2 linked regions of the Homo sapiens genome follow. The protein of the gene in region 1 interacts with the protein of each later gene in a biochemical or structural test. Each region holds a gene or a part of one and is shown in the gene's direction. Other genes may lie near its edges.

What was found. The genes of interacting proteins can lie anywhere in the genome.
Region 2: the proteins of KLF16 (region 1) and SIN3A form a complex in vitro, tested with the Homo sapiens proteins (2 studies listed by BioGRID).

The regions. Positions count from the first base shown.
Region 1 is NC_000019.10:1,857,004-1,860,653, reverse strand, and holds part of KLF16 (Krueppel-like factor 16), read left to right. Parts: intron 1-3,650. UniProt on the Homo sapiens protein: Transcription factor that binds GC and GT boxes and displaces Sp1 and Sp3 from these sequences. Modulates dopaminergic transmission in the brain.
Region 2 is NC_000015.10:75,406,568-75,410,217, reverse strand, and holds part of SIN3A (paired amphipathic helix protein Sin3a), read left to right. Parts: coding exon 1-84; intron 85-226; coding exon 227-382; intron 383-3,073; coding exon 3,074-3,163; intron 3,164-3,650. UniProt on the Homo sapiens protein: Acts as a transcriptional repressor. Corepressor for REST. Interacts with MXI1 to repress MYC responsive genes and antagonize MYC oncogenic activities. Also interacts with MXD1-MAX heterodimers to repress transcription by tethering SIN3A to DNA.

The DNA.
Region 1 (3,650 bases):
GGGCTGTCCCTGAATGGAGTGGAGGCCGGGAAAGATCCGCAGACGAACCCGAGTCACCGGTGGCTGCAGGGCTGTCCCGGGGGCCATTGAGAACGAGTTCCACCCCCACCCACCCCTGCCTGGAGTGCTTCTCTGTAAAGGGAACACCAGTCGTGGCCTGGCCCCATTTTTACAGATAAACCAACTGAGGCACACTGGAGGAGCCCCACCTGTGATTTCGGCCACATTTGGCCCTGGGAGCAGGGAGGCCAGGGGAGCAGTGGGATGTTCTTCATGGGGGCAGCAGGCGGCAGGACTGCACCTCCCGTCCCCTGGGTCTGGCCCACAGCCCCTATCCTAGCCCGGCCAGCTCTCGGCTCTCTCTCCCCTGCGTGGGGCGGGGAAGGACTTTGGAAGCTGTGGGTGATGTTGACGCCGTTGCTATGGTTACGGAGAGTGAGCGAGCCAGCGAGTTGGGGCGGGGGCGGGAGGAGAGGCTGGCTGTCGGCTCCCTGCTCTCCAAACCCCCTGCATCCCCGGAGGGCCCCCCCCCCGCCCCCGGCATGCCAGTGCCCGGCACACCGTCAGCCTGCACCTCCAGAGGGTTTGCCGACACCCTCCCCAGGAGAGGGGCTCAGACCTGGAAGGGTTCTTCTCACCCAGGGCTTCTCTCCTCCGCACTTACCGAGACATTTGGGGCCTGATCGTTTTCTGGGGAGGGGCTGTCCTGGGCACTGCAGGGGGTTATGCAGTGTCCCCAGCCTCTACGCACTCCATGGCAGGAGCACCCCCTCCCCAGTCGTGACAATCACAAATGTCCCCAGACCTTGTCAGGTGCCCCCCAGGGGGCTGCAGGGTCACCCCCAGTTGTATCCCACTCTGAAGTCCCCTGCCGCAGGCCAGCACCCAGCATCCCAGTCCCCGCGCCCCAGGACTTAGGGAACTGTGTCCGTGGTGGCGGGGGGCGGGGTGGGGGGTGGCAACAGGGATGCTAGTGATGACGGAAAGCGCTTCCTGGAGGAGGCAGCCTGAGGCCCACTGGGCTGGGTGGGGCAGGGAATGGGAGAGGAAGGGCGTGCTGGCTCTGGGGTCTGCTGTGGAGGTAGGGACTTGAGGTGGGGAGGGGGCACCTCGGCAAGGTGAATCCCTGCACTTAATCCCGAGGGTGGGGACGCTGGGGGCGGCAGTGAGGCAGGCTGGGCTTTGCAGAGGCAAATCCATTTATGGAGAAGGGATTAGGATCAGAGAGGGGTTGAGGAGGGCAGGACGAGATGTGGGAGGGATCGAGGCGTGCTGGTCTACGCACTGGGTTGGAGGGAGACTCCTCAGGACGAGGTGTGCAGAGGAGTGTCTGAGTGCCTGCCAGGTTTCTGATCCCTTGCTGAAGAGGGCCCCAGGAGGACAGGTGGGTGGGGAAACTGAGGCCCAGAGGGGGAAGCAGCCATGCCCCACTTCATTCTCTCCTCCACCCCCAGGCAGAACTATGCGCTCCTGTAGGGTTGGGATGGCAGTGCTGGTGGGCAGAGCTTGGGAGAACTGGCAGCTTATCTGGGGAGGGTCGGAGTGGGGCAGTGCCAGGCCATAGGGGGTGGGGGGTAGGGGGCCAGGGACTGCCCTCCCCCACCCACCGCCTCTCCAGCCTGCAGAGTGCAGAGAGCAGCTGGAACTGCCTGCAGGTGCCCCAGCTAGTGGGATGGGGAGGGCTCCCCCAGGGTTGTGGGGGGCGATAACCACCCCCACCCAGGCTCTCTGATAAAAGCAGCCCAGATCGGTGGGGAGGAGGCACATGATACCAGCAGGGTGAGCTGTGGGGGCGGGGGGCACCACCCTGGCTTAGACCATTTCTGGAACAGAGGTTACACAGGCACCAGGGTCCTTGAGGGGGTTGTCCCCTGCCGACCCCCAGGTACCCAGAGTCTGGTGCAGGAGGTCCTGGCCTGGGTTGGGCCTCAGGTGGGCCTCCTTTTATGTAGAAGGGAGTAGTGATAGTTTGGCGGCGGGGTGGGGAGGACAGGAGTATTCAAGATGCTGAGCAAACATTATCTGCCCTTGCTCTTGTTGGAACCAGAGCTTGATCCCCTAGGCCTGCATTCTCCTTTTCCACAGATATGCATTAAGCACCTGCTGTATACCAGGCCTGTGCTGGGCATTGCCGGGGACCCAGCCGTCAATGAAGTGCCTGCCTTCTGCTCCCACTGGAGTGCAGGGGTGCAGATATTACACCCACAAGATGCATGCGTTTTTGGAAGCCTGGTACAAAGACAGAGAAGCTGACCAAGGGTGCTTGGGGGGCACCAGGCCACTGTGAGGGGCACTGCTGCTCAGAGAAGCTCCGGGCAGGATCAGCCATCAGTTTTGACCCTAGGCCAGGGCGGAACTCAGGAAAGCCAAGCGCAGTCTGGGTGCCCAGGCGGGAGCTGCTGGACTACTGCACTAGTCCAGGAGTGAGCTGGGAGGGGCAGGGTGGGGCCTGGACGGATCCCGAAGGTGATGGGATTTGGCTGGCAGGTGGCACGTGGGGAGGTACGGGATTGACACAAGGGTGGGTATGCCTGCCTGCGTGTTTGGCGGGAACAGCAGGGGGTTTGGAAAGGGGAAGTCTACTGGAGGAGTGGGGATGGGGGAGGAAGGAAGCTTTGGCTTTGGGAAGTCAGGGGAGCTAGGGGCAGAGTGGGTGTGGGGGTTGCTATGGCCCAGTAGTATTCGAGACCCCACCCCCAGGCTGGCAGGGCCTCACCACCAGTGTTCCCCCTTTTCTGCAGCGGCTCCCAGAAGCAGCTGCCTATAGGTTCTATAGAACCTGCTCAAGGATCACCTTCAGGAGCTCCTCCCTTCCCTGGGTGGGTAAGAGGCCTCCCCAGCCCCAGCCTTTCCTGGCTCTCCTGGGATGCTTGCTTTGCGGCTGGGGCTGGTCTTCCCCACCTGTGCCCTCCCCTACAGACCCGACCCCACCTGTTAGGTGGACGTGAGTGCCCCGGCAGGCAGCCGGCCACAGCCCCCCTCCCCACCCCAAGGCCCCCCAGACAAGCTCAGGAGGTGAGGCTTCCCTGTCGGAACCAGGGCCCTTGGCACAGTCCCGCAGTCCTGTCTCCAGGCCCCTCCTGTGCCGGCTCAGACGGGGCCGGGCCAGGTTTCCAGGACTTCCTGGACTCCATTTTTCTGAGCCTGCCTGTTTCCGAGGCTGTCCTGAGCTCACCCGGGCCCAGCCTGAGTCAGAGGGTCAAGTCCACCGCGGCCCCGCCCACACTGCCCTCCCGCGTTGTCCCCACCCACCGCATCCTCAGGGCGCTGCGTCTCGGCCAGGTAGCGCGGAGCAGCTGGGTGGCTGTGCACCTGGGGGCCCGGCTGGCTAGGAGCAGCGCGCTCTGGGCCCCCACAAGTTCACCCCACCCTCCTCCCTGCGAGTGGATTGTGTGCGAGGCAGGGCCTGGCATTTCGCAGAGGCGCTTCGCCCAGCGCAGCGTGGGTGGGTAGCCCGTGCACCCCCTGCCCCGCCACCCACGTGCGCATGTGCGCGCCTCAGTCTCCAAGCGCGGGGCGGGGCTGGCAGGCACCCAGGCCGGAGAGGCGACCCTGGCCCGGGCCCCCTGGCCCCGGCGGGAGTGGGACCACGTGAGCGGGGCCGGCTGGGGCTGCGGATGTCCCCGCCGCCGCCGCCGAGCTACGTGCGG
Region 2 (3,650 bases), on another chromosome or scaffold:
GCCCAGGTTGCTCGTCTCTTTAAAAACCAGGAAGATTTGTTGTCAGAGTTTGGACAATTCCTACCAGATGCCAACAGCTCCGTGGTATGTTTTTTTAATAAGAATTACACTATTTACTATTATTATCTTAGATGAGTTGGAAAACTGTGCTCAGAAGGGGACTTTTCCTAGATGATATTTGTTTGCTTTGATAAGAGCATTAATCTCATTCATGTGTCTTAATCAGCTTTTAAGCAAAACAACTGCTGAGAAGGTTGATTCTGTGAGAAATGATCATGGAGGCACTGTCAAGAAGCCCCAACTGAACAACAAGCCGCAGAGGCCCAGCCAGAATGGCTGCCAGATCCGCAGACATCCTACAGGAACCACCCCTCCAGTTAAGGTGAGAATGGGCAGCAGCTGCTCATTTTGACACTCACAAGTATTTCTAATGGAGAGGTACTCTAGAGGTGGTCATGTGTTTTGTTGTTGTTGTTTTTTTTTGTTTTTTTGAGACCGAGTCTCGCTCTGTCGCCCAAGCTGGAGTGCAGTGGCACGATCTCGGCTCACTGCAACCTCTGCCTCCCGGGTTCAAGCGATTCTCCTGTCTCGCCCTCCCGAGTAGCTGGGACTACAGGCGCATGCCACCATACCGGGCTGATTTTTTTTTTTTTTTAGTGGAGACGGGGTTTCACCGTGTTAGCCAGGATGGTCTCGATCTCCTGACCTCATGATCTGCCCGCCTCGGCCTCCCAAAGTGCTGGGATTACCTGTGCCCGGCAGTCATGTGTTCTTAAGTGTGTTAACGGTTGGGTCCTAGATATTTGGAGGAAGTTAGTATTGTGTCACAGAAACTCAGTGCAGAGTTTATCTGGCTTTGCAAAAGAGTATTAGAATAACATTGATTGCTTGGATTACTGTACTTTTCTGAGTTCTTTATTATCTCTCCTTTGCAATGAGCTGTCATTTCTTTAATGTTTTGGTTGCTACTAAGAATTTCCAATACTTGAAATTTTTTTCCCTTCTTTTTTTTTTGAGATGGAGTCTTGCTCTGTCGCCCAGGCTGGAGTGCAGTGGTGTGATCTCAGCTCACTACAACCTCTGCCTCCCGGGTTCAAGCAATTATCCTGCCGCAGCCTCCTGAGTAACTGGGACTACAGGCGTGTGCCACCACGCCCAGCTAATTTTTGCATTTTTAGTAGAGATGGGGTTTCGCCATGTTGGCCAGGCTGGTCTTGAACTCCTGACCTCAGGTGATCCACCCACCTCGGCCTCCCAAAGTGCTGGAATTACAGGCGTGAGCCACCGCGCCTGGCCCCTTCTTCTTTGATGCTTTAAATCTGCCTTGTGTTAAGAAAGAACATTCTTGAGCTTGAGAATTATTTCAGAAATAAGTGGTCTCTGAGGTCCTCTTGTGAGTAGAGTGCATGTGTTTTTTGAGATCTCTGGTCTAGAACCCTGTCCTGCTCAAAGTTCTTTGTTGGGTTACCAGATCTTATGTGTATCATCTTAATCTCCAAGGCAGGACCTTTGGGCTGTAGCAGAGGGAAGTCTTAAACTCCTCTTAGTAATCCATTACATGATGTTTTTTGTTATAGTTAACACTGATGGTCTGCCTGCAGAAAACTTAGCTTGCTCCCTTCTTTGATGTAACACAGCTATGATAGGGAGAGGGCTAGTTGTATGTATTGAATGTTTAATTCTTCAGTGAATTTCAAAGCAGTATGTAATATAGAAGAGACAGATATGTCTGCAGAATTAAATAATGACAAAAGTTTGGGAATTTCTAATAGTAAGAGGTGGCTGATGAATAGTGATTGACTGACTACAAGGTCTGACGTACTAGGTGTTACTGACACTTTTGAAGTATCCTTTTCATTAGTGTTTGTCATGGTTTCTTCTTTTGAAATCTTTTGAAATCAAGTTGAACATAATAATGGTTTCTATTTCTTCATTTCAATAAAGAGAATTAGTTATATGGGTAGCAAGAATCAGCTCAGTAGATACACTCCATGCTTGGATTTACGTCCGCCCACTCTTGATTACCTACAGGTGGCAAGAATATAGTGGGGGCTTAAAATTCTCCGCCTACTTTCTCCATAGGCAGTGTAAGCAGAGGCTGCGGCTCTTAAGAAAGTATACTCTGAGATAGCCAAGGTAAATGTGCTACTTCTCACAAAGTTTGTGCATTTCTTCATAGAGAGTAAGTGGTGGATTTTAAAAGTAACTTCTTGCCTGACAGGATTATATCATGGCCTGTTGGTTCCCTTTAGAAGAACAATATTAAATTAGTCTGAGTGGATATTGCTGGCGTGCCTTTTTTTTTTTTTTTTTTTTTTTTTTTTTGAGATGGAGTCTCACTCTGTTGCCCAGGCTGGAGTGCAGTGGCGTGATCTCGGCTCACTGCAGCCTCCACCTCCTGGGTTCAAGCGATTCTTCTGTCTCAGCCTCCTGAGTAGCTGGGACCATAGGCGCACACTACCACGCCCAGCTAATTTTTTTGTATTTTTAGTAGAGACGGGGTTTCACCATGTTGGCCAGGATGGTCTCAATCTCTTGACCTCATGATCTGCCCACCTTGGCCTCCCAAAGTGCTGGGATTACAGGCATGAGTCACCATGCCCAGCAAATTATGCTTTTTAAGTAAATTTTTAATTGAAATATTATTCAGGGTTAAAGATTGATTTCTGTCAATTTGTGAGCTCTTTTTACAAACAGCCTTTTCTCCCTCAGCTGGTAGGAGAACAAAACAGTGGCATTAGATTCTACATGAAGTTACTTTGGGCCCCTAGAAAAAGTAAGGATATTCTAAAAGTTTGTCACAGTAATGTCATGATCATTTCTGGAGAAAATATTTTGGGGGTAGAATGATCTTTGAACCTCTGTTGTAGAAAGAAACTTAATAGGCAAACTGAAATAGAAAATATGAGTTGAAATCTTAGAGGGTATGGAGTGAGTTGGTTAGAGTTCTCTCATTTGTTTCAAATTATTAATCAGCAGTGGTTTCAGTGATGAAACCATTGAATACAGACAAAAATAAAATTCAGAGAAAACCACTCGTTGAATCTCACATGTTTGTATCTTTCTTTTGCAGAAGAAACCCAAACTGCTCAATCTGAAGGATTCTTCTATGGCAGATGCCAGCAAACATGGTGGTGGAACAGAATCGTTATTTTTTGATAAGGTGAGTAATGGATGAGTTAGATTTGATAGTGCCTGTTAATGCCAAAAGAAAATCATCTTATCCCCCTGGAAGGTTTCGTTTTAAAGGTGTCAGGCTAATTAGGACTTTCTGTTTTTTAACATAGTTTCCCAGTTGTGAGTCCTTTGAGTCTGCTAGTACTATTAGCATAGCTAGAAAAATGGTAGCATTGTTTGCTTTGGTTTTATGAAGCAGTTTGGGGCAGAAGACAGATTTTTAGAAAATGTATTATGTTTCTCTTGAAAGATGTTTGGAGCTCCCATTGTAGATATCCAGGTCTGTGTGGCAGGCAGTACCAGTGCCTGTACCAATTTTTGAGGATTTAAGATGACTTGTAATCTTTTTTTTTTTGAGACGGAGTCTCGCTGTCGCCCAGGCTGGAGTGCAGTGGCGCAATCTCGGCTCACTGCAGGCTCCGCCTCCTGGGGTTCACGCCATTCTCCTGCCTCAGCCTCCCGAGTAGCTAGGA